2 linked regions of the Homo sapiens genome follow. The protein of the gene in region 1 interacts with the protein of each later gene in a biochemical or structural test. Each region holds a gene or a part of one and is shown on either strand. Other genes may lie near its edges. The genes, in order: NR1I2 and ATF3.

Region 1 (16,482 bases):
TATTCAATTGTTCACTTAAATGATTAGACTTTATGATACATAAGGTATCTCTCAATAATGCTATTTTTAAAAATAATCAACTGGACATTTCTGGACATTCCAGAAATTAATAGTACAATATCTGAAACTGACAACTCATTGGATGTTTTAACAACAGATTGAATCAGCAACAGACAGTGATAGTGAGTTCAAAATTAGGTCAACAGAAAATATATAAACCGAAGCACAGAAACAAACAAAAAAGAGCATTAAGAAAAGAACAGGGCGTAAGAGACACACGAGACTCAGTGAAATAGCCTAACATATGTTACGGACACAAGAATCGGACAGAAGCAATCTGGGAAAGCACACTTGCCAAGAAGTTTTTGAAACCAATGAAAGGATTAAAAACACACATACCTACCCACACATCGTAAAATTGCTGGGAATCGATGACAAGAAAACTAATCTTACAAATACCCAGAAAAAAAAAATTAACCACAAAGAAATAAAATTAAGATTAATGGTTGACTTTTCAGTTGAAATTGTAAAACAGAAAAGACAATGGTTAATATCTTTATTGCTATCCAAGAATTTGACCAATAGTTTAATTATCCTTCTATTGTAAAGGCAAAATAAAGACATTTTCAGACAAAGACTGAAGAATTTGTTGCCAGCAGATACTTGCATTACAAGTAATACCAAAGAAAGTTATCCTGGCAAAAGCCAGTGGGGAGCATGGAACTTCAGGAGGGAATATGGAGAACTAAAAAGGGTAAATATGTGGGTGCATATAAAACAATATTGAAGGTTTAAAACTACAATAATAATAATGTCCTGTATATGCTATCTTTTAGAGATATGTATGTATGTATCTGTGTGTGTAGATATGTATATATATAGAATTGAAATAGTGATGAATTTGGGGTTGGAATTATTTTCATTTTCTCCTCTATAATTGTCTGTATTTCCTCAGTTTTCCCTTTCCTCTTTAGAGTAAGAGTCCGATAGCTGAATGCCTGGAGGCTGACACCCCAGAGCACCACCTAAACAGCTTGAAGAAGGAGGTATGGTAGACGCAGAGGAAGGGCCATGACACCTCCTGCCTGGCCCACTGAGCTCTCCCATAAACAGATTGTTCCTGCTGCTTCCTCATGAGGCCATTTCCTTTCTGTGAATGCTGATTTTCAGTATAAGATCCCCTGTGTTTGTTTGGGGGTAATGGAGGAGCATTAGGACTTCATAAGAATGAGAAGGGGACACACACACACACACACACACACACACACATATCTTTGTGCAGTTACTTCATTTGCTAAGAGGCCCCAAATCCCCTATTAAAGGGAGAAGGGAGGTCTTCCATGAATGACACACACATAAACATGGGAATGACTGATTGTGACCAAACAGGACCCAGCTAGCCGGCAGCCTCCTGGAGGTCAGAGGACTTTGTTTTTTGCTCCTGGCGGCTGGAGATATAGTGGGCATTGTCTTGTTGTCATAGTCAGGAGGCCATGTCCTAGCCCTTGCCACTGATGTTGAACTAACTCACTTTACTCACTAACTTCTCTATGCTTAGTGTCTCTACAATAAAATGGAAGCTGCTGAGAGAGGCTGACATGGCTTTGGGCATGAAGAGGAAGAGGAGAGTGCACTGCTGCAGGGGCTGTTGCCATAGACAGATCTGGCAGGGCAAGAAGTGAGGAGAGAGAAGGTGGGAAGGAACCAGAAAGGCAGATGCCATGCTGAGGCTGGGCCAGGGGGAGCCCCCAGGAGAGCATGCCCTCCAGAGAAGACAAGTTTGAATGTGGAGGGAAAGAAATGAAGAAGAGCGGTGCAACTGGAGATAGCAATGGAGGAGAATTTGAAAGAAAATGTGTGTGAAGTTTCTGCTACAGAAGGAGCAAGGCTCCCAGGAGTATGTAGAGAGGAGAGGAATAGGGTTGGGAGGGAAGGGAAAAGGGGAGAGCAGTACAAGGCTTGAGTGAGCTCAGGGCTGGACAATGGAGCAAGGAAGGGATGCGAAGCAGCATTGAGGATTAGAACTAGATAGAACCTGCTGGGTGGAACATGACCAATGGAAGACAGTGGGTTCCAAGGAGGCTCAACAATGGGACTCTTGCAAGTCCCCTGTCTTGGGGCTGGGAAAGGAGTCAGGGAGAAATTTCAGGTCATGTCAGGCTGAATGAGACCCTGCTTCAATTCCAGGGACCTGGGGTTTTCTGATCAACAGGGGATTAAGCCGTGAAGTGCGGTACACTTGGTGTGAGTGTTTAAGTGATTTGAGATGACTCAGTGGTACAGGGTAGATCACAACTACAAACTAGAAAAAAATCACAAAGTTGAACATGGTCCTCCCCCTACAGAAGAAACATGAGGAAGAGGAGGACTAAAGAGAAGTGCTGGGAGAAGACTTTGTGCCTTGGGGGAAAGTGAGAGGCAGGGAGGTGATCCACTAGTGACCTTTGGAGTCAAATATTTAGAGACTCAGTGTGAGAACACGGGTGAGTGCTGCAGATACATTTGGGCCAAACAGGAATTGGGTACAGACATGGGAAGTGGTCATCTTTAGTGCAAGAAAGAATGAAATGATCAGTAGAAGGTGCAAGACACTGCCTATTAGGTTGGGAAGTTTAGTGATGATGTAGGGCAAAGGAGAAAATCCCACTATATATTTCTAGCAAAATACTAGAAAAGGGATGATCTACAGGAGAGAAGCCCTTGTCAGGGCGTGGTGGGATATAGTTTGAGAAACACAGAGAGAGGGAAAACTAAGGCAGTGAGAATGGGGGGATTGTAGTTTAGAAAGAGTCAAGAAGCCAAGTGAAAGAAATTCAAGCAAAAGAACAGAACCCAGCCTTGACTATTTCCAGGCACCGGCAATGGGAGGGAGGAGGCAGCATTAGGAGATGAGGAAGGCAGATTAACGGGGAGCCCAGAGAAACTGCAGGTGATGGGCATGTTTCTTAAGAGAATAGGAGAAAAGAAGAGGGCTGCTGGCCATGCAGAGGCTAGAGAAGAGTCACAAGGAAAGGCAGACACCCAGCAGTGCTGTGTGGTCCTAAACAAGGGAGGCAGGGCTGACTGGCTGAGCAGAGCAGGAGACTGAAGGAATTCACAGTACAATGCCTCAGAGCCCTTTTATGTCCCTCTCCTGCCCCACCCTCTTCCCATCCCCCTGCAGGCACACAAAGCTTATCTGTTACTGAGTCATCCCTTAAGGTCTGCCTATGTTGCACTTTGCCCTGCTAAAGGACTCTCCAGGGTCACAGCCGGAGAGTCGCTGTCTGGGACACAGCTAGTCTCCACTTCTGCACTTGCCCAGCTCCCTTACTGGCCTGTGCACTGACCAACCCCAGCCAAGAGCCAACTCCCCAGCTAGTGGTGTTTGGAAGAGCAATTTCATCTGGTGTTCAGGTTAGTCAATGGGCAAGTAGAGGTGCCCTTTAGTCAGCTTACGTGGGTTCTGAGGCTTACACAATTTGGGCAGTCCTATTTTATTTTATTTTACATTATTTAATTTAATTTACTTATTTTGAGACAGAGTTTCAATCTTGTCACTCAGGCTGGAGTGCAAAGGCACGATCTTGGCACACTGCAACCTGTGCCTCCTGGGTTCAAGCAATTCTCCTGGCTCAGCCTCCCAAGTAGCTGGGACCGCAAGGCATGGGCCACTACACCAGATTAATTTTGTATTTTCAGTAGAGACAGGTTTTTCACCATGTTGGCCAGGCTAATCTTGAACTCCTGACCTCAGGTGATCCATCTGCCTTGGCCAACCAAAATGCTGGGATTACAGGCATGAACCATGGCGCTTGGCCTGGGCAGTCCTATTTAAGAAAAAAGAATATAGGCCAGGTGTGGGGGCTCATGCCTCTAATGTCAGCACTTTGGGAGGCTGAGGTGGAAGGATCAATTGTGAGGAGTATGAGACCAGCCTGGACAATATAGCAAGACCCTATCTCTTAAAAAAAAAAAAAAAAAGGCTGGGTGAGTGGCTCACACCTATAATCTCAGCACTTTGGGAGGCCAAAGTGGGAGGATCACTTGAGCCCAGGAGTTCGAGACATGCCTGGGTGACATGGTGAGATCCTGTCTCTACAAAAAAATTTAAAAATTAGCCAAGTGTGGTGGCACGTACCTGTGGTCCCAGCTACTCAGGAGGCTGAGATGAAAAGATTACGTGAGCCCAGGAGGTCGAGGCTGCAGTGAGCCATGTTCACACAACTCCAGTCTGGGCAACAGAGTGAGACTCTATCTCAAAAAAAAACACCCCAAAAAAACAAACAAACAAAAAAACTCAGCCAGGCATGTTGGTGCATGCCTGTAGTCCTAGCTACTTGGGAGGCTGAGGTGGGAGGATTGCCTGAGCCCAGGAATTCAAGGCTGTGGTGAGCTAGGATTGTGCCACTGCATTCCAGCCTGGGTGACAGAGTGAGACCCTGTCTAAAAAATAATTTTAAAAAACACGCAATTACAAATACAAAATTATGTACCGAAGAGAATATTTGTAAGAAAGAATGAGAAAAGAAATCACAACAAATGACAGACATTAAAAAGGACAAGTAACAACATCACAGAATTCAGAAAAATGTCATAACACTTTCATTAATTAATTGCCTGGCATGCCTCTATAATGTTTTTGATCGTGTCCTTATGGTAGATAGAATAAAGGCCCTCAAAGATGTCTGCACCCTTATCCCCAGAACATGTGAATATGTTTCCTTATATGGCAAAAGGGTCTCTGCAGATGTGATGAGGGTACAGAACCTGGAGATGGGGAGTGTGCTGAATTATCCAGGCAGGCCTAGTCTAATCACATGAATCTTAAAATTAGAAAAGCTTTCCTGGGTTTGATCAGAGAAAGAGACGTAATGTGGAAAAAGGGTCAGATGCTAAGTTGCTGGCTTTGAAGATGGAAGAAGGGGCTGTGAGCCAAGGATTGCCACGGCATCTAGAAGCTGGAAGAGGTGAGGAAACTGATCCTCCCCTACAGCCTCCAGAAGGCAGCCTCCACTGATTGGGCAGAGTTGGGATCGCTTGGCCCACGGTGGTCCTGTCCTGCCTCTCTGCTGCACTGTAACTCTTTAATCTTGCCTGAGTGGTAAGGATTGAGGCTGTTCATTTTCCTTGTGGTAACTCTGGAGGGGAAAAAGTGGACTTTGGCTAGAAGAGAATGGGTGGGCAGCAAGTTTCCAGAGTTACAGTGAGATCTGATTGTGTTAGTCCATTTTGTATTGCTACAAAGGAATCTGAGGCTGGGTAATTTATGAAGAAAAGAGGTTTGTTTGGCTCGTGCTTCTGAAGGCTGTACAAGCTTGGCACCAGCATCTGCTTCTGGTGAGGTCTCAGGAAGCTTCCAAGCATGGTGGAAGGTGAAGTGCGAGCCGGCATGTCACACAGCAAGAGGGAGCAAGAGAGAGAGGAGGTGCCGGGCTCTTTAAACAACCAGCTCTTCTATGAACTAAGAGTGAGAATCACTCATTACCGAGGGTACCAAACCAGTCATGAGGGATCCACCCCCATGACCAAACACCTCCCACTAGGCCTACCTCCAACATTGGAGGCCACGTTTCTTTTTTTTTGTTTGTTTTTTGTTTTTGAGACGGAGTCTTCCTCTGTCACCCACTCTGGAGGGCAGTGGCGCGATCTCAGCTCACTATATCCTCTGCCTCCTGGGTTCAAGTGATTCTCCTACCTCAGCTTCCCGAGTAGCTGGGATTACAGGTACATGCCACCACGTCCAGCTAAATTTTTTTTTTCTTTTTTGAGATCTGAAGTGATTTTATCTGTATTTCCTTCACTTTAAGCCAATCATGAAATTTCACAGTGATTTCTGGAGTGGAGGCAGAAGGAAGGCAGTGTTAAGAATCACTGGGGCTGTGGCCTAGTTGGCCCATGGAGGTGCAGGCAGGGTGGGCCCTCACTGGGGCAGCTGGAGGAGCACGGACTGCCCTGCCGGCAGATTGGTGATGTTCCAAGAGCGAGAGAGCTGGTACGTGATGTCCTCTGCAGCTTCCAGCTTGCACAGCTCCATCAGGCCGTCCCCTGCAGTGGCCAGTGAGTTCTGGCCCTCTCTGCATCCTGCTGAGCCACCTGTTTGGCTTCCACTGCTTCTGTGAACTCCTTCCTGAAGGTCAGATGTGTCAAAGACACATCATCCAGGATGAGCCCAAAGGTGGCTGCTCGCTCCATAAGGTCGTCGCTCACCTGCCTGGAGACCAGTTCTCTCTGGGTGATTAGTTCTCCAGCATCAAAGCGAGCCACCACTGACTTGAGGATCTCAGTAGTGATGGATGGCAGCACACGCTCATCATAGTCTTCTCCGATCCTGGTGAAGATGCGAGGAAGCTGGCTAGTGACAGGCCCAAAGAGGATGCACGGAATGATATTGACATTCTGTAAATCTTTGCTACCAGTGATGACTGGCACATTATGTGGTTGAGAACGGTGGTCAAAGATAATTGGTTTCTGTACCCATGGTATGAGAAAGTGAGTCCCTTACCCTACCACAATGTCCTGTACTCCACAGAATCGGTCAAAGATGACAGTTCTGTGCCCAGCATCCATGTTATATAAGGCAGAGTTCACCATGCCTTCTGCAACAGCTAAGGCCAGTCCAAACTTGCCGATGGACTCAAACACTTGGCAGCTATGTTTTCTTCTGTTGAACCCTCTCACACCTGTTTCCACTCTGAACTCCACATCTAATTTTTGTATTTTTAGTAGAGATGGGGTTTCACCATGTTGGCCAGGCTGGTCTCAAACTCCTGACCTCAAGTGATCCGCCCGCCTCAGCCTCCCAAAGTGCTGGGATTACAGTTGTGAGCCACTGAGCCCGGCCTAGAGGTCATATTTCAACATGAGATTTGGAAGGGATAAAACATCCAAACCATATCACTGATTTTGACAAGAGACCCATCAAGTAACTTTTTTTTAGGACAGGGATGATCAAAGAATGCTTTTGATAGAAAATGGTATTACTTCCTTCCTCCATCAGAAGAAGACAGGTGTGTCACATGAGCTGTCAACATTGGTGAAGCAATCACACAAGGGGACAAATGGTGTTACATAGGAGTGTTCACAGCCTCCCACCTCTCCTTGTACAGGAGACTCTCATAGATGTTAATCTAGCCTGACATTGCAGGAGGAGGCCACTCTGGAGGCCAAGCCCACCCCAAACCTGCTCTCAGAGAAGCTCCTGGTGCCCAAGCAAAGGTCCATAGGCCTTCTGGGGCCTATGAGGGATGGTGTAATTGCTCTGTCCCAGGGACAAGTAATTCCCTGGCCCATTTAGATCCTCTTCTAGTGAGTCTGGATGTCAGACATACAGACAGAGCTAAGTTATAAGGTCTGCTGGCTGGACTGCTGCCCAGGGGGCTGCCATATTCAAAGACACCAAAACATTATTGGAATGAATCAGAAATCAGGTGAATTTTAGATTGCCTCCTTTCCTACCAAAGCAGTCATCACCCTGAGGTGGAGACTTAAAACACTCCTTGACAATGCAGACTAGTATCTGTACGGTGCTCAGGGACACTCACATGCCTGTCACACAGGGCCACTCCAGCCAACCCAACCCTGAGGACAGCCCATTGAAGTTGGCAGACAGAGCCAGAAATGGAAAAATATGTGGTGTAGGGCTGTTTGCAAGGAAGAAATGTACTGTTTTATTATGTGAACACTTAAACATGCCTTCCAAGAAGTTGTGTGGTTTGGAAAATTACACAGAATAAATTATTTATTTTGACCATAAAGAACATAGTACACATTTAAAAGAACATCACTTGCCAACAAGCACATGAAAAAGTACTCAACATCGTTAATCATAAGGCAAATGCAAAGGGAAACCATAATGAAACATCACTTTATATTCAGGATGGCCGCTATCACATAAACAGAAAATAACAAGTGTTGGCAAGGCTGTAGACAAATGGGAACCTTGGACTCAGGTGGTAGGAATGTAAAAATGGTGTAGCCATTATAGATAACAATATGGCAATTTCTCAGAAAATTGAAATAGAATTATCATATAATTCAGCAACCATTTCTGGATGTATATCCAAAAAGAACTGAAATCGGGGTCTTGAAGAGATATTTGTACACTGATGTTCACAGCAGCACTATTCGCAATAGACAAAATGTAGAAGCAACCCAAATTTCATCAACTGATGAATGGATAAACAAAACATGGGACATACTACAATAGAATATGAGTCAGCCTTAAAAAAAAGGAAATTCTAACACATGCTACAATACGGATGAACCTTGAGGACATTATGCTAAGTGAAATAAGCCAGTCACAGAAAGACAAATATGAGGTATAGTAGTCAAGCTCATGGAAGCAGAAAGTAGAATGGTGGTTGCCAGGGGCTGTGGGGTGAGGGGAATGGGAGTTGTTTAATGGGTAGAGTTTCCATCTTAAAAGATGAAAAACCTCTGGAGATTGGCTGCACAACGATGAAAACATACTTCACATTATTGAGCTATACACTTAGAAATGCTTAAGATGGTAAAATTTGTTATTTGAATTTTACCAGAACTAATTAATTTTTCAATCCTGCTCCTTCTGTATATTTTACAAATTAAAAAAAGAACATCACCAAATAAATGTTGATCAAATATTTAAATAATATTTAAATTGAATTTAAATTGAAAAGGAAGCCAAAATAGTAGACTGGTTGGGGTGCCTCAGTCCTGCCCTGTGCATGGCAGCCACAGTGCACTCAGAGAGAAGGCAGGACAGGGAAGCTGTGAAGCAGGAAGGGCCCCGAGGAAACAGAAGTTGTGAGGAGGAGAAGCAGCAGAAAGAAAGGAAACAAAGGAAAGTAACATCAATAGTTGATATGGTTTGGCTGTGTCCCCACCAAAATCTCATCTGGAATTGTAGCTTGCATAATGCTACATATGTGGGAGGGACCTGGTGGAAGGTAATTGAATCATGGGGGCGGTTCCCCCAATACTGTTCTCATGGCAGTGAATAAGTCTCATGAGATCTGATGGTTTTATAAGGGGAAACCCCTTTCGCTTGGTTCTCATTCTCTCTCTTGCCTGACACCATGTAAGACATGCCGTTTGCCTTCCACCATGTTTGTGAGGCCTCCCCAGCCACATGGAACTGTGAGTCCATTGAACCTTTTTTTCTTTGTAATTTACCCAGTCTCAGGTATGTCTTTATCAGCAATGTGAACATGGACTAATACAGTAGTTAAAAGCACTACAATCAGGAAGAAAAAGATAACCATGTCAATTAAAGTGCATTTGATCCCAACCTGAGTTCTGAACTACATTTTAATCTCTAGGAGGTCAGGGCCCTGGCAATTGAGATTTTTGCCTTCCTTCTCTCCCATGCCTGCTTCAGAAGTGCCCCCGTTTAAGGTAACCTGGAGCCTGTGCTTACAATCTAAGAGAGTGATGCTCCAGCTTTCAAGTACATACAGATCACCCAGGAGCTTATGAAAATGCAAATTCCCATTCAGTAGGTCTGTGGTGGGTCTGAGCTTCAGCATCTCACAAGCTCCCAGGTGAGCTGATGCTATGGGTCTGCAGTCCACACTTGCAGTAGTAGCAGGGAAATCCAACTAACCAGACAGAAAATTGGCAGTACACAAACAGACTGGCATGGAGAAGATGATCTTGTCAATAAAAACAACTTTATGGTGCTAGGAAATAAAATAAATAATCAAAGAGATATGTGAAATGACTCACATTATAAATTGTTGTTTAAAGTCAATATACAGGCCGGGCACAGTGCCTCACACCTGTAATCCCAGCACTTAGGGAAGCTGAAACAGGAGGATCATTTGAGGCCAGGAGTTCGAGACAAGTCTGGGCAATACAGTGAGATGCCATCTCTACAAAAAAATAAAAAATTAGCCAAGTGTGGTGACATGTGCCTGTAGTCCCAGCTACTTGGGAGGCTGAGGCAGGAAGAACACTTGAGCCCAGGAGGTCAAGGCTACAGTGAGCCATGATTGTCCCACTGCACTGCAGCCTGGGCAAGAGAATGACACCTTGTCTCAATCAAATGAAAATAAATAAATAAATTTGTATAATGATGGCCAGGGATGGTGGCTCACACCTGTAATCCCAATGCTTAGGGGGGCTGAGGCAGGAGGATCACTTGAGGCCAGGAATTTCAGATGAACCTGGGCAACAACATGAGACTTTGTCTCTACCAAAAATAAATTTTAAAAGTGTCTGGGCATGGTGGCACACACCTGTAGTCCCAGCTCTCTGGGGGGCTGAGGCGGGAGGATCACTTGAGCCCAGGAGTTCGAGACTGCAGTGAGCCATGATCATACCACTGCTCTCCAGCCTAGGTGACACAGCAAGACCCTGTCTCTTAAAGTAATAATAATAATAATTTTTTAAAAAGTCAATGTACTTTGAGGGTGAGATAGTTCCTTCCCAGGAAAAGGATGTGGGGAGGACATACAGATAAATTTAGTCTTCAAATGAGTCAAAGCACAAGCTTTGGAACCAGGTCACTGAGATTATGGGAAGAGAAGAGTGGGCAACTTGAATTTGAAGCAACAGAGTCTAAGTAAAAGGGGGTAAATGGATAAAAAAACAAAAATCATAATCTTTGGGATAGAAACTCTTGGAGATAGCAGGATTATATTTAATTATGTGTGTGTGTATACATACATATACATACACACGATTACATATATTTAATTATGTGTGTATACACACATATATATACACACACGCATAATTAAATATATATATAATCATCCTACTATCTCCAAGATACACATACACACCACACACACACACACACACACACACACACACACACACACACACACACACATATTAATAGCAGAACTGGCCAGAGGATAAAGAGAAAAAAGCAAGTAAGGGGAATGTAATATAAGAATACTGAATTTCTAAGATGCAGGCAAGTGATGCCTATAAAACCATTGACGTTGTTCAGTGAAGGGAGACGTTTGGTGAATTTAACTCACATTTGCACAAGTTTTGCTGTTTACAAAATGATTTCAAAATTACAACTTCATGTCAAGGTGCCTGTGAGGAAGGCAGGGCAGGGCTTATCCCAAGTTGAATAAGGGAGTCGGGGGCAGGGCAGTTCTTATTATCCCTTTTGCAAATGAGGAAACTGGGGCTCTGGGGTGTGTTCCAGTTCATGAAGTCAATTAATGACGGAACTTTTTTTTTTTTTTTGGAGGCAGTCTCACTCTGTCCCCTAGGTTGAAGTGCCATGGTATGATCTCTGCTCACTGCAACCTCCACCTTCTGGGTTCAAATGATTCTCGTGCCTCAGCCTCCCAAGTAGCTGGAATTACAGGTGTGTGCCACCACACCTGGATTATTTTTGTATTTTTAGTAGAGACGGGTTTTCGCCATTTTGGCCAGGCTGGTCTTAAACTCCTGACCTCAAGTGATCCACCTGCCTCGGCCTCCCAAGGTGCTGGGATTACAGGCATGATCCACCATGCCTGGCCAGAACATCTTTTCTTTTCCCTTATTCTGATTCTTCCTGTCATGTAAATAGATACATGATGCAAGTTGTTTTTTCACAGAATTCATGGGGGCAAAATGAGGCTATATGTTTTAAATTCTTTATGAAACAAATCAAGTATTATTAACAAAACCTCCTCACTGGCCCTGGCATGGGGCAGGCCTCCAGAGGAAACTCAGATAGCCAAAGTCACGGTTTATGAATTCAAGAAAGAGAAGTCAGCTGCTCTCTTCAGGGGGCCATAAATGAAAATTGGCCTTTATGCTTCCTGGGACTTGGTCATCAGATCCAAGAGGTCAGAAGGTTACTAGACACAGATCAGGGTTGAGAGCTGGCACCAGCCCAGGTCATAAGTACACACAGTACCCTCTTCCAATATTTAACAGGACACAGTGGCCTCTGAGTTAACTGCCTATGTCTTATCAATGCATGTGTAGTGCCAGTGTTGCCTGTGGTTTTATAGTTTGACTCTTTGGAACTTACACAGATCCAGGAAAATTATTTCAAACATTACATGAGGGATTTGGATATGTCTCTTTATGTCAATTTCCAGTTGGATATTCAGTTTGTTATATCGATGTTTCAAAGAGGTTCAGGAGGTGTTGCAGGGAACTTTTCCCAGCCCCCTTCAAATTGTGCCACCTAAAAAGCCCCTGTATGCAAGAGAGGTTCCCTACACATTCCTCCTGTCCTCCCCAGGTTGTGCCCAGGACACCAATATCTGAAGTGTGAGGGCAAGAGTCTGATGGCTCAACAAACAGAACGTGGCAACCACACTAAGAATTTGAATTAATGTTGTCCACGTTCCCTGAATTTATTGTTCTTTTTAATGGAAAAATCATGGGTCTGCATTCCAAGGGTCCTAGTGGCTATTGGATCATCTCTGCTTCTATCACCCTTGGGATGAGCTATATAATTAACTATGGAGATATGATAAGGAAATTAATCAATGCTTAACAGCATTTAATAAAACTCAATATTCATTCATGATTTAAAATTCTTGGTTAACCAAGAGGAATAGAAGAGAGCTTCACTAACTTGATATGGAATAGTTACTAAACACTTTTACTAGCTATCTTATTGGAGAAGCATTAGAATCAATCTCATTAAAATAAAAAATAAAGATTTTATTGCTGGCACTATGATGGAGAAGTTGGTTACAGAAAATCCTCCTGGTATGCAGCACCTAGAAATACTAAATTTTTAAGAATGTCATTTTTCATGCAGGATTGAGCTGGTAGGAAAGTAAAGGAAGTCTCAAGAGGCCAAAATTTATAAGATTATGCTAAGCCAGAGGCATGAGAAAGGGAAGTCATGATCATCCTGGAGTTTTCTGGACTCCTGTAGGCCTGGGGCCTGGATTTTAATGGTAGAATAGGAGACAAAGCCTGGAGCCTAACCAGATCATAGACTATAAACTCAAGATCCCCTAAGGGTGACATCCTCAGTAGAAACCATGGAGGGAGACAGGTCTATCCCAGGCCTTCTCAGCCTTGGCTCTGGGTAGAGCAAAAAGAAAAGTCTCCTTTGAAATTCTTAACAACAGGCCTGCAATCAAGTAAGTTTGGGTCAGGATTCTCACTATTTGTGTGGCCAGTAGACCCCAAGCTTATGGTGGTCCCAGTTAGTTCTGTCCTCAGGTTCCTGGCAAAAGCAAAAATAAATCCTCTAGAGGAAAACAATTTCAATCTCAACAAGTCCCAAAGAGAAGTTTCCAAATGAGTTCATAGTACAAAATAAAAATGGAAATCAGGAACATGACAAGAATTCCTAGGACATCTAAGTGTTTGTAAAGAGTATCTCCTAGAATTGTGCAGTATAGAACCCACACAACTGTATGCATCACTTCTGAGACTATCTACTTTCATGGCTACTACTCAGCATTATGCTGAATGGCAAAGAAAAACCAATAAGACACAAAAAATTAAGGTTTGTAAAGATTGGAAAGGAAGGAGCAAAACTCTTACTATATATAGATGATATGTTTGTCTAACTAGAAATTCCAAAGGAATCAACTGATAAGCTTTTATAACTATTAAGAGAATTCCATAAGGTAACTAGGCAAAATATCAAAACACAAAATAGATTTTCTATTTATTGGGGGAAAAAATCAAGTAGAAAAGGTAAACATTATAGTGGAAATTGGCTCAGGAATAGGAAATAAATACAAAAGGACACAGAAATGGACATGTGTAAGTGGGAATTTAGTACATGATAGAGGTGATATTTCAAACAAATAGGAAAAAGATGGACTTTTCAATAAATAGTATTGAAATAATGTATTGCAATAAGTGCCAGGTGAATAAAGACTAACTTTTTAAATAAAAGTATTACAGGAAGGTGCACCAAAGTAGCTTCATAATTTTGGAAGTTGAGAAATCTTTTAAAAATCAGCCTCAAAGAGTAAAATCCAGAAAGAGGGAAACTAACAGATTCAACTACATCAAAATAACAACAACAATAATAGTAAAAATTTCTGTTGGCTAAAAAGTATGATTTAAACAAAGCTTAGAGAGAATATTACACACATATCAAATAATTTGCATTGAGAATAAATAAAAAACTCCTACAAAGAAGAAAAAAAATCCGACATAAAATAAGCTAAGGATATGAATAGGTAATTTAAGAAGAGAAATACAATGGCCAAGAGGGGTCCTATAAAAAGAATGCTCAACTTCATTAATAATCAGGGAAATTAAAATATTGAAATAATGGGTTGTCATTTGCACTAATTCAATGGAAAAAATAATAAAATACTGAATAAACAGCAAGCATTGTTTGGAGTGTGGAGGAACAGTAACTATCCTTCTCTGCTGGTGGGAGTACAGTCGGTTCGGGTACTGTGGAGGGCTGTTTGGCAGCCAAAAATTGAACCACATATATCCTGTGATGTGGCAATTCAACGTCTTAGTAGTTCCTCTAGTGCAATACGTGCACATGTCTAGAAGCAGACAAACACAGTGAGGTTCATTGGTAAGACTGAAAAATTGGAAAAGCTTAAATATCTATCGAAAAGAAAACGGCTAAATAAAAGAAGTGTACACTGTGAAATATGACGTAGCAGTTAAAATAAATGAAGTAGAGCTCTATACAGATATGGAAAGTCTCCAAGTCTTGCTATTGAGTGGAAAAACAGAATTAGAACAACATGGCAACAGATAGGTTTAATAGTCCATCTATGCATAGATGAACACACACACAGACACAATGGTCTGGCAGTAAATATATCACACTAAGTACTTTTGGGGAAACTGGAGATTAGGATTGACAGAATGGCCAAAGGTGAATTTAGGTTTATCTATACTGCTTTCTCATTTTCAAGGAGCATGAAATCATGTATTACTTTATAATTTAAAAAGTTATTACCTAAAAAACCTAGTCTAGTCAGTTTTGTGGTTGTCTTGGGTTTATTCCATAATAATTTTGGAACAAGTTGACAGCTTTTAGATCAGGAGTTGGCAAACTTTTTCTGTTAAAGGCCAGATAGTTAATATTTTAGGCTTTGTGGGCCATACTGTCTCTTTCGCAATTGGTCAATTTTGCTGACTCAATGAATCAGCTATAGCAGGCACTATTCCTCTCCCACATGGCCTCTAATGATATGGCCAGAGTTGAAAGGATGTTGTAGGGCAAAAACAGCCATATACAATACATAACGAATGGGCATGGCTGTGTTCCAATAAAGCTTCATTTATAAAAACAGCTGGTGGGCCAGAGTTAGCCTGTGAGCCATAGTTTGTCAACCCCAGGTTTAGACTTTTATGACATAACTAAAATATTTTTAAAGCGTATTTGTGTACCACAAAATACTTTTTCCCATTAACCAACTGATTAAATAAGCCTCTGAGGCCTCCCTTAGCATCCTTTCAACTCTGACCATATCATTAGAGGCCATGTGGGAGAGGAATAGTGCCTGCTATAGCTGATTCATTGAGTCAAGACTCAGTGGCCTCAGAGGTGTCTGTTGACCTGTCCTAGATATGGAGTGGCCTTAAAGCAGTGCCTCTGGCCATAGCTTCAGCCGAGCTGGGCTGTAAAGTGGAGAGAAGAAGGACCTGGTGGCACTGACCACATGCAGGCAAGACTCGGTTCTGTGGGACAAGGTGCCCTTTCAATAGTAGAGGTAGAAAACTCACTGGTTTGAAGCCAACTCAGCCGCAGCACTGTGCAGGGGTATGGCAGGTGCTCTGAGGGACCCCTCCTTGAAGTGGTGAGTCCTGGTGACTGTCATGCTGCTGTCCTTGGCCTCAGGGGGCTGCCAGCACTAACCCAGCAGGCCAAAAGGAATCAGGACTGAGTTGATCCCAGTTCCCATAGTCCCCAGCTCCCACAGTCCTTGGAGGTGGTATTTCCTGGGTCCAGGGACTCCAGCCCTGTAACAGGGAGCTGGTTGTATGTGTGACTTGTGGTAACTCATGCAGTAGTTAAGGCTTCTCCTGTGGTGATTTTTCTAGGAGGCTAGTGCAGGACCAGAGAGCATCAGTAATGGGGCTCAACATTAAGTGATTGTTTTCATGCTTTTTTTTTTCCACCCTAGAAATGAGGAGACAGCAGCAAGGCCAACATGATTCACGACCCACTATGATGCTGACCTCAAACAGAAGGTATATTTGTGTTCACACACATCTTTTGGCTGGAGCTGAAGGGCGGTCAGCCCCCAGCAAAAGAGAAAGAAAGAAAAACCATACCTGCTTGGTGGTAAGTTCTTTGCTCCGACTTCTCCCCTGGGGTCCACTTTGAACAATCCGGTGCAAAGGATCGATCAAGGAGTAGCTTTACCAAGGAGCCGCTGCCTTGTTCAGGACAGGAGTATTAGCTTATTCTCTTGCTTTTCTCACTGTGAACACTTGGCTTGCAGGCTGAGGCCGAGATTCCCACTGAAGTAAAGGCAGTGCTTCCTCTTCCCGTCCTAGTCATAGGTTATGATTTCCCCGGATATGAGACAATCTTGTCTCTCACCTATATTTCAGTCCAAGTCAGATGTAGGCACTAAGCGGCTCCATTGCCCCTCCTAA
Region 2 (16,688 bases), on another chromosome or scaffold:
TCAGCTCTGACATCCTTAAGCCACTATGGCATCGCCAGAAGCCACCTCCCAGACTTCTCACCATGTTTATTATTCCAGGAGTCTTACCCAAGGTTGCCAAGCGTGGAACAGTGCAAGTGTGTCAGACAGAAGTGAACCTGGAGCAACACCTGGTCCCAAGGCTGTGAACATTGCTACAGGGAAGGGTGGGGCAGGCTGCCTGGTCCTTGCTCTACTGTCTGGGTGCTTGGGTCCTAGTAGTGATAAAAACAGGGACCACCACGCTCCAAGCTTCTTCAGAACAACTGGACACAGAAGGTGGCCTCATCCTGACTCATGGCTTTAAGTGCCATCTATATGCCGATAATTTCCAACTCTATTATCTCTAGCCCAGACTGTCCTCTGAACTCCAGACTCACATATCCAACTGCCTGCTTGACATCTCCACAGGGGTCTGCAGAATAGGACAGACCTCCTGCTCTTGCCACCACCCTAACCCCTATAATCCCAAATCTCAGCAGCAAATGGACGCTCCATTCTTACAGCTATGCTGGCCAGAAAACTCAGTCACCCTTGAGTCTTCCCTTTCTCTTACACCCCACATCCAATCTATCAGCAAATCAGCTTTACCTTCAAGTCAGATCCAAAGCCAACCACTTCTCAGCACCTGCACTGCTCCCTCCTGCTGCAGGCCCCCTGACTCACGTGGATTCCTGCCACGGCCTCCTTTCTGTGCACTCAGCTTCTGTCTTACCCCTACTGCCCATTCTCAACATGACAGCCAGGGTGATCATTTAAAAATATAAATCAAGGCTGGGCGTGGTGGCTCACACCTGTAATCCCAGCACTTTGGGAGGCCGAGGCGGGCGGATTACCTGAGGTCAGGAGTTCGAGACCAGCCTGGCCAACATGGAGAAACCCCGTCTCTACTAAAAAAATTCAAAAATTAGCCAGACGTGTGGCGGGCACCTGTAATCCCAGCTATTTGGAAGACTGAGGCATGAGAATCCCTTGAACCTGGGAGGCAGAGGTTGCAGTGAGCCAAGATCATGCCACTGCACTCCAGTCTGGGTGACAGAACAAGACTCTGTCTCAAAAAAAAAAGTGTGTGTGTGTATCTGTGTGTGTGTGTGTGTGTTGAATCTTGTTGCTTCTCTGCTCAAAAGCCTTCTGTGGTTTCCCACCTCACTTTGAGCCCAGGGCTGCATCTATACAATAATAATCTGTAAGACCCAATATGACCAGCCCCTATTTATCTCCCACCCCTATACTCTGCCCCACTGCACAGCCCACCAGGCACCAATACTTCCACCTCAGTGCCCTTAATTTCTTTTACCAGATACCCACGTGGCTTCTTCCCTCTCCTCTTTCCTTCTTCCTTTCCTTTTGACCTCTGCTCAAAAGTCACTATCAGTGAATCCTTACCTGACTTCCTAATTTAAAACAGCAACCCCGGCTGGGTGCAATGGCTCATCCCTGTGATCCCAGTGTTTTGGGAGGCTGAAGCAGGAGGATCGCTTGAGCCCAGGAGACTGAGGCTACAATGAGCCGTGATCACCCCACTGCACCCCAGCCTGGGTGATGGAGCAACACTGTCTCTAAAAGCAAAATGAGTCTTGCTCCATCACCCAGGCTGGAGTGCAGTGAGGTGATCACGGCTCATTGCAGCCTCAACCTCCTGGGCTCAAGCGGTCCTCCCACCTCAGCCTCGCAAGTAGATGAGACTATAGGCCATGTACCACCTTGCCCAGCTAATACTGTCATAGAGATTGGGTTTCATTGTGTTGCCCAGGCTGGTCTCAAACTCCTGGACTCAAGCGATAATCCCATCTTGGCCTCTCAAAGTGCTGGGATTATAAGCGTGGGCCACCATGCCTGGCCTGAAAAGTTTTTAAACCCAGCAACCCCATCCCTACCCGTTCTCTCTGCCCCGCTCCCTGCTTTTTTCTCCTTTGCACTCATCTCTTAACGTGTACTTACGTATGTTATGTACTTCTGTCTCCTCCCAGGAGAAGGTAAGCTCCCTGAGGGCAGTGGTTTTGTTTGTTTCACTCTCAACAACAGCCCCCTGCCTAGAACATGCCCAACACACAGTGGCTGCGAGCGAAACATGTGCCGAAAGAATGAATACCTGTGATAGAACCCACCTCGGCTTTTGTGATGGACACCCCGAGGGGTCTGTCGCTGACAGTGACTGATTCCAGCGCAGAGGACATCCGGTGGCAGAGGTGCTTGTTCTGGATGGCAAACCTCAGCTCTTCCTTGACAAAGGGCGTCAGGTTAGCAAAATCCTCAAACACCAGTGACCCAGGAGGGGACAGGCAGGGGACGATGGCAGAAGCACTCACTTCCGAGGCAGAGACCTGGCCTGGGTGTTGAAGCATCATTTTGCTGAAAGACACATTGAAACCCAAACTGTTTCAGGGGCTCTGGGGCATGGGATCAAGTCCCCCTCCCCCACCAGACCTCCAACACCAGAGCCCCACCCTCAGAGAAAAGTCCCATAAGCCCTTGGGTTTCTGTTTTGTTTTCATTTCATGCCATCCTCATCTTAAGTAAAGCAGGTTCTTAAAATACACATAGCTCAGTGACATGAACAAAATGCCTATTTGAAATTTATAAGGGATGATGTTTCAGGCTACTCTGAATTCACAAGATCTATGAGTTTTGGCTGGTGTGCCTATGTGCAAATGTGGCCACAAACAGTCCTGAAAGAGGAAGAACATTTTTTAAAAATCAGTGAGGCCATTTTAAAAATCATGAGTAATCTCATTTTCAGCTTCTTTTTCTTTCTCTCTCTCTCTCTTTTTTTTTTTTTGTATATTACTCAAAATAAAGTTTCTTTCACTTAAAAAAAAAAGCCTCTTTTTCAAAGAGGCTTGACGTCAAGCTGAAACTATCAGTGAGTGGAAGTAAAAGCAAAAAGTGGGGAATCCTTGAATTTAGCAAATACATCTCTGAAGCTTCTCCCCCGAAGTTGGGCCCAAGCAATGGGAATGAGAAAGGTAACTGTAGCCAGGTGCGTTTCTTCACCCCAGTCTTTGGCAGGGGATGGGGAGGTGGATTCTTAAGGTTAAGGTTGGCAAAGCAAAAGGTCTTAAAGAAAAGTGAGGCACTGTATTGTGGGGGAGTTGTTCAGGCCTGTGGTATAGGGATAGACTTAGGCTGGGTGTGGGGGCAGGGAACCCTGGGGCTGGCTCTGGCACTAAACAGCAGTGACTTGAGCTAGTAATTTCAGCTCTCTAGGACCCAGTCTGTGTCTGGTAAATGACTGACAGCTCCTCCAATGCAAGCATTGAGTCTCCACCATTGCTTTACCCAGAGCCTGGCCCAATGCCTGACTCGCCATGCCTCATTGGCCAACTGATAAATGAAGTGGGGATGGGGTCATCAAATCAAATGGCCCCCACGGTCCAAGGTTACCTTTCTCATTCCCATTGCTTGGGCCCAACTTCCGAGGGAGAAGCTTCAGTGATGTATTTGCTAAATTCATCTCCCTCTGTTATTCTATAGCTCGGTGAACCCAAAAGGATGACAAAAGGAAAATAAAGAGTAGAAATAGTGACAGTTCCATGGCCCCAATTTGGAAGAGTCCCCCATAAGTCTTGGCCTGCTGTGTACTCCCTCCAGTGGTGGCCATTTCCCCTCCTCCCTGCAGTTGGTTCCCAAGGGACAATGAGTATAGGGATGAGTGTAGGATGAGTGTGGTCTGGGCATTCCTCTCAACCGGGGATCTGTGGTCATTAGCACAGTCCAGACAGAGAAGAAGCCCTCTGGCAAGTCTCGAACATTTAAGGAGTGCCTCCTTCATACCAGAAACCTTAGGGGCACTATCTCATTTAATCCTCACGAGAACCCAGTGAGTTAAGATCTAGCTGCCTTTTATAGATGAGATAATTGAGGTTTAGACAAACTAAGTCATTTGCCCGAATTCACAGAATTAATATGGGGCAGCATCAGGATTTGGAATTAAGTTAGTTTGGCTCCAGGATTCATGCCCTTAATTTGTACATTGCAAAAAACAAACAAATATTATTCTACATTACAAAAACAAACAAGCATTATGTTATATTGCACAAACAAACAAAAAACCAGAGCAAATTTTCTCGGGGCAGGCCTTAAGGTAGGTGGGAGGCCTGGAAATGAAGTGATAGAGGGGAGGCTAAGTAAAGATTCCTCGGGATAAACTGAACTCTGTTTAATGAACTGCTAATCTTTATGTCACGGTGCATACCCAGGCTGCTTGCTAACTGCCTTCTGGGAGTGTGAGCAAGTGGGTCTCTTATCCACAAAATTCCCAGACTGAGGTCAGAAGATGAAGATTTGAAGCCCACTTACTCCATTATGTGTTATCATTGTACCTCCCCGTGGCTTTTTCTCCTCTGTTAAAGAGGGCTTGTAATAATCGCCCTATTTTCCCATAATATCCTATGAGGAATTGAGGAACTAATACATGAATATGCCCTGGAAAACATTCTTTGGCCAGGAGCTCCATGATTACTAGGCCTCCCAGAGATCTCTCCAGCCCAGGGCTGGCTCTCTGACAGAGGCTCTGTGGAGTCCAGGAAGGAGGGCAGCTGGTCACCCACTTTGATCTCAAAGGCTTCTGAATAGAATACCCTGACTTCAAACTCCCCCTGGAGATCTAACATACACCAATGGAGGCAAGACTTCCAGGCCAATGAAATCTGCCCTTGACTAGTCAAAGAAACCCAGGCTATGTATGTAATTCTTTTCCCAAAGCCCTGTGTCATGAGTCAGAACTGAAGTTCTTCTCTCAATTTAATCCTATAATCTTAGGATGCTGGGAGGATACTTGTCGCTGTCAGGCAATAAACTCTGAGAAACTAGCCTTCTAAAGCCAGAGGCTTAAGATTCTCCCATGCATTCATGTTTCCCTTCCCTTTCCAAGTTTATTAAAAACTCAGTGATTCGGGGATGACATTCAGAGCTGCCACTGGGCTGGTCTTTGTTTGGAGGCCTGGATGGCTCCCTTCTACACGGGGACTTTGAATTCCACTGCAGTAGAGTGTAGTTCCATTTTGCCATCCAACTAGGTTTATTAATGAGCTCTCAGGGCTTGGGGTCTGCTGTTTATGACTCCCGCCCCCTACCCTTCTTCTTATGTAAAGTCAGCAGTCCCAATGAAAGAAGCTGAAGAATGTCAGTGGTATGGAATGCTTTTATGAAAAGCATTGGGTGGGCTTCCTTGGGGACATAAATGGTTGTAAAAATGTTAAAAGCCTTTCAGAAAATAAAACAGATGTATCTGTCGAGATTTGGGTTTTCTCGGCACTAGGCTAAAGCTTAACTTCTCGGGATACTTTCTAGTTATTCCTTTACTCAGTCTCTCGAGGTATGATTCAGCCTAGACTACGGCTGTGTCCCCACAAGGAAATGAAGTTAAATCTTCACACAATTTTTCAGAAAGTTGAGATCCTCAAACATCCCGGTCATTGAAAAAAATTGTTTGGGGACCTCAGATCAGAGTTGACTTTCTATGCTGATCATAAAATTGTTCAGACTTGCTACCAAGAACTTGCATTTTGTTTCTGCTTGATTATTTCCAATCAGAAATCATGTTGTATCATTGGCAGTTTCATCATTTTCAAGAAAGTGAAAGTTTACTCATGTATTCCTTTAACTGGAAATTCAGCTCCCAGATTTTTATTTCCTAGTAGCTACAGCTACATTGAATTTTCACTTTTAATTTTCATCCTCTTTCCACTAAGCATTGCTTGCTAACCATCTTATGTTACTAGGAAGCCAGTACTGGCCTTTCACTAACTCTTCATATCTTGGTCTTCCTCCCAGACCTCTTGAAGAGGTGCAAAGCTGGGCATCAAGGGCCAGAGACAATGTTTCTAAGCCTATCAGTGCCACTCATAAGCTGAGCATCCACCAACAAATCACTTAGGCTTTCTGGGCCTCTCATTCTCTTCCTCTGTAATTTGAGATCAAAACTGCCTTCCCCAAAGGGCTGTTGAGAAGGACATATGAGATTTACATACACACCGGGTAGTCATTACTACTGTGACTCCATCTTCTCCATTTCAGGAAAAACTCATTCTGTTGTTATCAATTCAATAAAGCCCTGTTAGTGAGGAATTAACTGGAACCTTCAAGACATTCAGGTCAGTCAGAGCCTCTTTTGTACTCTCATTGACCCCAAGTTCTTCACAGACCAGGTAGGTTTCACCCCACTATTTGCTGATGCCAGCATTTCTGCATTACATATTTGAAAGAGAACCAATTCTCACATATAAACCATTTCTCCCTTGGAAAGCTTCTGAGGCATCTTGGCTATGTCCTTCCTCCTCCCCTGGCTGGGTAAACACTCGAAGCCACTGGCCCTGTCCCATGCCCAGCCAATTTTAAAAAGGAAGGAATCATGGACTCTATCTAATGGAAATCACACCCTCTCAATATTAGAATCATCTAGGTCAGATTCTCATTTCATAATGAGTACATTGGTCCAGGGAGGTAAAAATGACTTGCCTGAGGTCATAAAGCTGGTGAGTGGCCCAGCCCATGCCAAGCTGCTGAACACCCACCGACTGCTCATTTTGCTCCATCACCAATAGGTATCGACCGCCTCAAGGGATCAACCAACAAGGCAACCAGAGAACAGAGCCATTAGCCAGGTAGATAAGGGGTCAAGAGTCCTGGCACCTGGTACCAATCACAGAGGAGACTTTGACAGGACTGAGATAGGGAGGGGCTATCGAAGAAAACGGCCATGGAGAAAAAGGAATTCTATAATGGCTAAAGGGCAAGGAGGAAGAGAGAGAGAAAAAGAAGGCTCCCATCACTGCCACAGATGCTGGGTGCTGTATCTTATCCCCACTGCGGGCGTGGGGTGCTGCCTTCTTTGCTGTCTCTGAAACCATTCCGACAGTAACTGCAATCCTCACCCCATCCCATCTTTGCCCAGGATATCCTCAAAGCAGGAGCCTGTATGTTGTAGCATTATTCTACAACCAATGCTAACTGCAAAACAATGGGGACAGTAATACCAATTTTTTGCCTTCACTTTAAGTTACAGAGACAGAAACTTCGAACAGAAGATATGACTGTCACCTACAACGAAAGGGGTACACTGAGAGAACATCCAGATTTTCTGGCTCTCCTTTTCTTTCTGGGTTCATCAAGGATTTAGTAACTATTTTATTTGTAAGAAAGCATATGTGACCTATGCAATGAAATTAGGGAAAAGAAAATGTTTAGGAGGAAAGGAAGTAGATGAGAAATGAAAATGGGAGTGGGGGGAGCAGAGAAGGAGAACGAATCCAGTGGAAAGAAAGCTGGTGAGGGAAAAGATGCCCTGCAGAAAAGTCCCCTTTCCCCCACTGTCTGGACACTGGTGAATGACATTAGATAGAGACCCACCCCATTCAAGTCCCCTCACTGGCTCCTTTTCTCCCCACTACACCACTCCAAAATCTGAAAATCTCCAGACAGAAAGGACCTTAGTAGTTATCTGGTCCAACCACTGCATTGTGCCCTCCAACACGCAGAGGGGGCCGGTACTGCCCATGTGCCCTTATTTCCCGGCTCCGCATACTGAGGCCCAACGACATCGATTGCAGTGTAAGCGCTCAGAGTCCTGGCACTAGACCACAAAGCCATTCTCTCAAATATCTGCACAAGTGGCTCCACACCCTCGCTTCCCCGCCACGGTGGGTCTCCCGCGGACCCGCCGAAGGAAAAGCCAGAGTGAGAGTCCCAGGTGTGTGGGAGTCCCGGGCTCGGGGTCCGGACACCAGCCGTTGCCGGGAGCCCTCCCCGTCTTCCGCCCCGGGACAGCGCGACACCAGCGCTCGCCACTTCCAAGCTTATCCCAGCTAACTTTTTCTCGGGGTTGCCTTCACGGTCCTGCCGCCAGTGCTGCGGGGTACCCAGGGCGACCCCCAGCGGCCGCGCCCGGGACGCCTCCCGCCCTCTCGCCCCTTCCCCATTCATTCCTCTCGGCGCGTGGGGCAGCCCTCCCGCAAGCCTCCGGCCTTCGTGCCTCTCTGCGCCCCCCCCCCCCCACCCGGGAAGGATCGGCTCCCACAGTGCCGTGTCTCGAAGCGAGGGATGGAGCGGGACGGCGAGCGAGGCAGCCTCGGACACCCCAACGCACCCGCCCACCCACCTTACGCCCTCTCCCAGCCGGGCAAGCCAGCGCCGTCGGCGGAGAGAAGCGGCGCTCGAGGCTGGCGGCAGAGTGGACGCCCGACCTCCGTCACCAGGAACCTTTCGCGCCCCAAGTCAAAAGAGAAAGTTAGTTCTTTCGCTTTGCGGGAAACTTTTCGAAGCGCCGAGGAGCAGCGGTGGCTTAGAAGAAGTTTAAGCCAGAGTTATTTCCAAGCCGGAGGCTGGGGGCGCGGATCCGGGGTGGGTCAGGGGTCGGCGGACTGGTTACTTAGAGGGGCGCGAAGGGAATGAAGGCGAGCAGCCCTCGTCGCGCTCACTCCCTCGGCTTCCAGCGCTCACCTCCAGGCTCCGCTCGGGGCGGCCAGGGTCGGGACGGGGTCGGGCGGGCTGTTTGTCTGGCCGGCGGGCGAGCACCGAGGACTCACGGCCGGCGCGCGGGCTGAAGGGTGCGCTCGGGCGGCGGCGAGAGAAGAGAGCTGTGCAGTGCGCGCCTGGCTGCGTGCGACTGTGGCTTGGAGAGCGTTGCATCACCCCTTTTATAGCCCTCAGGCTGGCGGCGCGGTCGTTTACTCCGTGTTGCCAGTCCCAGGCTGACGTAATGCTATTAATAGCTTCCCGGGAGAACCGGCCGAACGGAGCGGAGGAAGGGGGGTGGAGGAGGGGCCAAGGCGGGGCCGAAGGCGGGTGGAGAGAGGGGGCACTGGTGATGCAAGTTCGGGGAGGAGCCAGCCCAGGCGCGTTCCCCCAGCCTCGCTCACTGAGACACACACCAGCCCGCCCTCTCTCTCCATATCAGGACCGGAGCCGCCCGGGATAGCCGCCAGATGTGCGTACTCGCTGCTGCGTGTTCCAGGCATGACCAATGGTGCCCAAGCCAGCGGCATGACTCCACCGCGCTGGCATCTGTCCCTCCGCTAGGTTGAAGAGCGGGGGGGGCGGGGAAGGTGGGGAGGCGGGTCCCGGCCCCAGCCCAGACTAGGTGAGGCTGGGAAGCGGGCACGACCTTTCTCTAAAATGCGTGGTCATTTTCTGGAGCTTCAGGAAAATACCCCCTCCCCCACTGGCCTCCTACTTCTCTAGCAGGGGCGGAGTAGGGGCAGAAGCGTTAGTCTGTGGTGTGGGGAAGGTGTCCAAAGTCACCCTTCGGTGTATCCACGCCGTTACCCGCCGGGTGTGACCTCTGCGGCGGGGACCGCGAGAAGCCCGCCGGTTAACACAAAAGCGGAGGGCAGCCCTCGGCTGGCACCGTGCGCCCGAGCCCGCAGCCCCGGACACTCCACATGGACGCACACGCAGGACAGCTCCGGGCTCCGAAACTAGGGCGAGTGGTAGGACCGTATCGGTTCGATTTTTTTTTTTTTACAATCACAAAGCGTTTGAAATTGACAAGAACATGTCAGTGAAACCAACAAGAGCGTGAAAAGATCGGAGTCCAGGAGGAATCAGAGGCAACCCGGTGGGAGGGTAGGAGGGGGCGGAAGCCAGCGGCCAGGAGGAGGGGGAAAGAGAAGGTGCTTTGGGGTCCGCGAACCTGCCCAGGCCTGGGGGTCGCCCCGCTCTCAGGCAATATTTAGGGAAAACCCATGTTCAGCTTTCACGTGTTCTTCTGCTCCCAGAGCCGATTGGACTGGGACCGGACGGCCCGGAATGGGGACGCAATGACCACAGGCGGAACCCGCAGCAGAAATCCCCTCTGCCCTCAAGCCAGGGTGGCGGGAAAGGCGGGGCCCCGTGGTCCGAGATTCGAGCTGAGACCTCAGCAGAACTGGGTTTGAACCTTAAAAACGATTTCCTGGTTCTTATTCCCCGACCCCAACAATTTCTGCTCAGAGAGCGGCAGAACCAAGGAACCTTCTTGACTGCCCGTGGATGACTATTTGTAGACACAAGTGTGGCCTGGGACTTTCGCACCTGCCTGGGAGGGAGACCTGCGCGGCCGCAGGGTGTGGGGGCACGGTGAAGGGCAGAAACACCTGCTCCTTTCCACCTGCCTCTGGGAGAGAGGCGGCCGAAGGTCACAGTTTGGTAATTTGGGGTAGAAACTAGAGGTGTCTGGAGCCTGGGTCTCACTTGAAGTCCCCAGTTCCCCCCACCGGGGTTCCTCGCCGCCAAGCCCGACCTCACTCAGACCACCCACCTCTCCACGGGCCTGGGAACACGCGGAGGGCGGCCTCGGAAGTCTTTGCGCCCCGGCGGACCCGGGAGCCCTGGAGTTCCACGCGGGATCCTCCGAGATCCTGCTCTGGACCTGAACCGATTTCCAGCGGCGTCGCGCGGGAAGTGCAGGGCGGGTGTTTTCGCTTTACTTTTCGCCCTGGTAACGGCTCTCCGGGCCCCACCCTCCGCTTCCACGCCCTCACCCCCGCGCGCCGCTCAGCACACCTCCACAACCCGCCCTCCCGCTGGAGTGCGCGCAGGTAAACCCCGGGCGTGTCGGAGCAGCCCGGCGGACACCGGGCGGGATTAGGTGGAGGAGTGTTTGCATTTGAATGAAGTTATTTGTTATCTCTACTTAGCTATTTTATCTACTTATAGATTGTTCTGGAATAAATAGCACCATTATAAAGTGAAGCAAGGAGAGGAGGGAGAACACGTGAAGCTTTTTACTCTTTCTGCTGTGAAACAGAAATTTTGACCAGTTTACAGGTTGAACTATGATTCCATTAAAACACCCAAGCCAGATCTGTGGAGATCTGCTCCTGTCCTTAAGGGGAAATTCAACTTAGGGCGTCAAGTAAACAAACAGCCAGACCGTCCTCCACAAAACAATGCAAGGGAAGGATAATTGGGGTGGGGGGAGAAGCCCCCAACACCCCGGTCGGGTTATTCTTATTACCATTGTGCCTCCAGTTCTTTTTATCAATCTTGCTTCATTCTAATTACTCTTAGTTTGGAATCTCCAAGTTGGATAGAAATGCTGTCAGCTGTTCACGGAAGTCTGATCCTGATATTCTAAACCCGAAAAGTGATAAGAATCTTGACAGAGAACTAAGTCCACTCCCACTTGAATGAAACTCTTACCCAGGGAAAACGAAAACTACTCCTGCCTGCCTCCCTCCCCTCAGCCCCCAGGAGAACCGTGAAATGCCTGCTGAATTGAGAGACTGGAAAAGAACAGAGCAAGGCAGAGCCCCTGAGGTCTTTGCCACAGGAGAGTGATCAACATCTGAGTCCTTTGCATCCTTATTTTACCCTGACTTCAGTTAATGCCACCAATGTCCAGTGTGCACACTCTCAGCACACACACAGGCAGTGCCATGAAGTGGAGGGGACAGAAAAGCTTTCCACACCAAAACTCTTCTCCATGCAAACAAAAGAATGGCTGTCTCGCCTTAGAAGGAAGCCCTGGCTAGGGTGATTTCAGGGGTTAATCCTCAATGAAAGAGGGTTAAGCAGAGACTTGAAGATTGCTGAGGTTTTATGATGGTGAATTGCCTGGGGAATCCACATTCAGATCAGCCTTGGTATGTTTTGCTGAGTGAGATAAGAGTTGGAGACTTCATGCTGGGACATGTGCAAAAGGAAGGGAAAAAATTAAAAGGGGAGGGGAAGGAACTAGGCAACTAAAAACAGCCCACTCGTGGCAACCAAATCTAAACAGAAAAACATTGCAGGGAGCCAAACGCAAAAGAAAAAACAAAAAAGTTTGAGATATTTAAAGGTTCTAGCAGTTTCTTAGTTCAGTGCACAGTCCCTTCCCACATTCCTCTGCCCCATTACTCTGTTCTCTAAACCCTAAGACTGTATTCGTGCCCAGAATGCTAGAAACACAAGATAAGATCTGCCAGAGAAGCGGCAGAGTACTAGCAGCTCTGTCTGCCTGGCTCAACCTACTTCTTCGCTTTGGAACGGGAGTGGAGTCCATTTTCTTATACTTTATTCTGTTTCCGAAGCTCACTCTTTCTACAAAGTCAGTTTGAATGTGGGGATTGCTAGTTTAATAGTGTCCAAAATTGGCATTGTCAGGAAACAGGGGCAGCATCACACAGTAGGCACCAAAGTGTGGAAGGCACTTGGATTCTGGATTCAGCACTTAGATGCTGTGTCACCTTAAGTAAGTTATTTCCTCAAATGAAAAATGGCACTAACAATAGCACCTAATGCATAAGATTGTTGTGACATTTCTCTGAGGATGTGGCACCCAGTCAGCCCTCAGTAGTGGTATCATTAATTAATTATGAATCAAGAGAAGCTTTCTGAGGTACCCTTGAATCTCTCCAGGAACTCATTCAGTATCACTTGTCAGTGGAAAATAGTGGATGAAGTCAAGCGATCTCCAGGAATGACAATCAAGAGGGGGCGGGAGTGAGAGCCCAGGCAGACACTGATGAAAGCCATCCTCGTTCCCCATCACAGCAACTCCACCACACACCTGGGGCTCTCCTCAATGCTGGATGGCCCTGCCAAGTATCCTGGGCTAGGAGCAGGGGATTTGGGTTTGGGGTCTGGTTCTGTCTTTGGTATTCTTGAGCAAGGCACTCCCCGTTTCTAAGGCTCCCAACTTTTCTGAAGTGAGGAGCCTTGGGCTGAGCTCTGACGGTCCTGAATGGGGACCCTCTGCCAAAGCCACCCTATGAGCTTCTGGCAACTTTCCCTAAGAGAGATGGGGAGAGAGAAGACATCATAGGTAAGGCACTGAATAGAACAAGGACAGACCCATTTCTGCAACCTTTCTTCCCCTCCAAAAACTAGAGTTAAGAAATGTTGTCCAACTTAAACACAGCCTGTCCTTCTCCCACCTCCAATACTTCCAAGAATTTTCACCCCCATGGACTAGGTGCCTTGTGAGAGAGGGATGTGGCAGAACACCCCAGGCATGGATTACATCTCTGGTGACTTCTTGTGTGTAGCCCATCATCAACAACCATAGACATCTACCTTGGTCTACAGGGCCAAAACCCAGGTAGCAGATATTCCCATTTGAGAGATTGAATCCAGAGACCCCAGAATCCAAGATGAAGTCCTGGAAGTCAGTAGATTAGCAGGACTCAGGAGACCGGGGATTCATCCACAGGTTTACCTCCAGTCAACTGAGTGAGTATACAAGTCATAAACACGATGTCTCAGTTTCCCAGTCTATAAAACGTAACCACTTAGCATTGACTCCCCCTAGGTTGTTGTAAGAATCAAATGAGATAGTAGATGTGAAAGTGATTTGAAGATAAAAGATTCATAGTTTTAAAGATTTCTTTGGGGAAAGTTTTACTATAATTTTTTTGTCATTATGAAAATTTGGGAAACAGACAAGGGAAAAATATTACCCACAATCTCAACACTATTAACACTGTAGTGTGTTTCCCTCTAATCTTTTTTCTCATGTACATGATTTTAAAATACAGTTATGATTTTAGATTGCATGCACCTTTGAAATTTGCTCTTTTGCTTATTACCTCGAATGGTATATGGTCTTTCTTCTTAAAAATATGTCTTATTATAAAGTATAGCATATATACAAAAGATTATATAGAACACACACACACACACACACACACATATATATACACACACATTTTAATAATCAAACACATTAGGAACTCACCACTCAAGAAGTAGACCTCTTTGCTTCCCAGAGGTAACCACTATCCTGATTCTTATTACCATAACTTGCCAATGGATGTTCTATGATTTACTTAATCATTTCCCTACTTTTAGAATTTAGAGTGTTGCTAATATTTTGCTTGAATGCTATACAAATTCAAATATTTTTATAAGAGAAAGGATATCAAATACCATCATTGCTCAGGATGCTTAAATGGGGTTAAAGAATGAGTCTTGATGTCTACCTTCAAATGCTACACACGGCATATATATGGTGGAAGATGGAAGGACCCCCAAAGATTGTGACTACTTGTGCATTTTCCTTGTTTCCTAACATCCAAACAAAAAATCCTGCAGGCGCTTTTTCCTTTTTTTAAATCCCTGCCCCTCTCTGCTTCCCATCCTCCTTTATTTCCTCTTCATCTACCTTGAAGCAGAAAATGTAGTCTGCAGCATGGGCTAGTAATACAGAATTAGAGCAGCCAGGCTGTGCTTCTCCCTGTGCCTTCAGGCAAAATTCTCAGTGTAGCTCGGGCAGCTCTAGCATCTCTATGCCAGTTTGGTGACATGAGTGGCTACCAGGTAGCTGGTCACTTCAGTCTGCACCTGAGCAGGTGTAGATGTTTGGCGGTGATTCTCAGAACTAAAAGACACCATAGCCAAAAGGACCCTAGAAGTCATTCACTTCCATTTTCTCAAACTGGACATGAGCACACACAGGTGTACCAGGGCCATGAGATAAACAAAGGAGATCTTACTTGAGTGTCTGCCTTAAATAAAAAATCCTTAAAATATTGTGTTGTATTAAACATATATAGATATGTGGAATTTGAATGTAAGTCATGCAAGGATTTCTAAGGAAAGAGAGAAGATATCAAATACATTCTGGGTCTAGCATCGGCTGCCAAAAGTTTTATTCCTGGGACCTTGAGAGGATTAGTTCCCTCCCTTCTTTCTAAGTGTAAAATGTTACTATGTAGCATTCTGGGTGTTCCGTGCTATGTACTAAGCCCTTTACGTACAGTTAATGCTTTTAATTATTGTAACCACCCTTTGATGGACCGTAAACATCTCCATTTTATAGATGAGGAAACTGAGGCACAGACAGGGTAAATAACTTGCCAGAAGTTACCTAGCTAGTGAGCAGTAGAGCAGGACTCAACCCAGGCAGTCTGACTCCCAAGTCTGAGTGCGCAACCACGATACCTACCACCTCCTGGCAAGTGCTCACGGGAAACTTGGGATGCTCTGATGCAGTTCAGGGCCCTCCTTTGATGGATGAGGAAACTGAGCTTACAGAGAAAAATGTGGCTCTACATCGTGTCAGAATCATAAATTCTCATACCGAAAGGAACCTTAGCAGCCATTGAGACTCGTGAACCCCTTTTTTGCCCTCCACCTGGGGAGATGCTGCTTTTGCTAAGAATAGGGCCAAGGTGAAAAAAGCTGATTGTAAGAAGAGCACCCTAAAACATTTTAGGGGCACCTTAGCTAGTGGCTGGCAAGGCATACTATCCTTGGGGCTGAAAAGGGGATGGTGTAGGGTAGAAGCCAGGGATGGCAGAAAGAACCTGTGGTCAGATAGAACTGAGTTCAAATCCTCTTTCTGCCACTGCTTATTTAGTTTTAAGAAGGTCTTATAACCTCAGTTTCTCCTGTAAAATGAGGATAATGTCTGTTTCCTCATTTATATCTGTTTCCTTAATCATGGGATTAAGGAACAATACACCTTTATTATACATTGTATGCCTGTATCAAAATATCTCACATGCCCAATAAATATATACACCTACTATATACCCCCCAAAATTAAAAAACAATTCACCCTCAAAAGTGACATTCAATAAATATTGCTTTTTTCCCTCTTCACGCCTTACCCTTGAAGCTACCAAGTCATATGGAAACCTGAGACACCAAAGTGTCTAGACCCTCATGGAAAGTTCCATCTCTCAGGCTGGCTTACTGACTGATTTTAAAACAAATTTAAAAAAACTTGATGTGTGGCCAGGTCCTATTTAGTAATTACTATTTACTGAGCACATACTACATGCCAGGCACAATAGTAAGCACTTTTAAAAATACCCAGTATCTTATTTCATCCTTATAATAACCTGTGAGGTAGGTTTTTTATCTCGGTTTTACAGATGAGGAAACCAAAGCACAGAAAGGTTAAGAAAATTGCTCATAGGTACTTGATTTAAACACAAATCTAACTTATTTCAAAACTTACATTAAGCGATACTGTCCTCAAAATCTTAGAGAGCATGATGTGTGTTTACTTTTCTTTAGCCTTCCCTACCTTGTTGAAAATGAGCACCCTCGCTTTACCAAAGTCTTGCTGAATGCACAGATGCTTCTAGAGTTGACCTTACCAGAAAATTCTTACTCCTGATGTCCCAGAGGATACATGCTTAATAAATTCCAGATCCCTGTGCCCTCAGGGATACTTTCCCCCCTGCCAAATTTGCAATTATTTCATAATTTGCTTTAACCACAAACATAAGCCCTGTTATTGACTGAGTAAACTGAGTAGGGCTTTTTGGACTTTTATTCTTTTCCCAAAATACGATGAACTTGAATCATCAGATGATGAACTTGTACTTGAAACTAGAGTGGCTGAGGGCAAAGTGAGTCACTCCAGTGAGTTTATGCCTATCAATCAATGCATCAAATTGTGTCCTATTACCGGACACTGCTCTCAGCAGTCTACTTAGACACCTTGGGGTTACAAGGACAATATAAGAGCATTTCTTGACCTGAAGAGTTAAAAATCTTGTTTAGGTGGCAAATTAATATACATGAAGCAGAAGTCCAGCAATATAGTAGGTATTTTATATATATACTATATATATATGTATGTATGTTTAGTCCTCCAACATTTTAACGAGCACCAACTATATGCTGGATACCGTGTCAGAAGCTGCAGGTACACAGTGATGCATATCTGCCTTCCAGGTGCTCACAGCCCATGGGGAGACAGACTTGATAACAAATAGTTACAGCCTGATGCAGCAAGGGCTAAAGTGGGGCAG

The links.
Region 2: the proteins of NR1I2 (region 1) and ATF3 form a complex in vitro, tested with the Homo sapiens proteins (one study listed by BioGRID).

What each region holds. Positions count from the first base shown.
Region 1 is NC_000003.12:119,781,974-119,798,455, reverse strand, and holds the start of NR1I2 (nuclear receptor subfamily 1 group I member 2), read right to left. Parts: upstream 16,356-16,482; 5' UTR 16,156-16,355; intron 15,747-16,155; exon of another isoform or gene 15,699-15,746; coding exon of another isoform or gene 15,604-15,698; intron 1-15,603. UniProt on the Homo sapiens protein: Nuclear receptor that binds and is activated by variety of endogenous and xenobiotic compounds.
Region 2 is NC_000001.11:212,600,700-212,617,387, reverse strand, and holds the start of ATF3 (cyclic AMP-dependent transcription factor ATF-3), read right to left. Parts: upstream 8,628-16,688; 5' UTR 8,458-8,627; exon of another isoform or gene 8,117-8,457; intron 6,549-8,116; exon of another isoform or gene 6,541-6,548; intron 2,371-6,540; 5' UTR 2,367-2,370; coding exon 2,127-2,366; intron 1-2,126.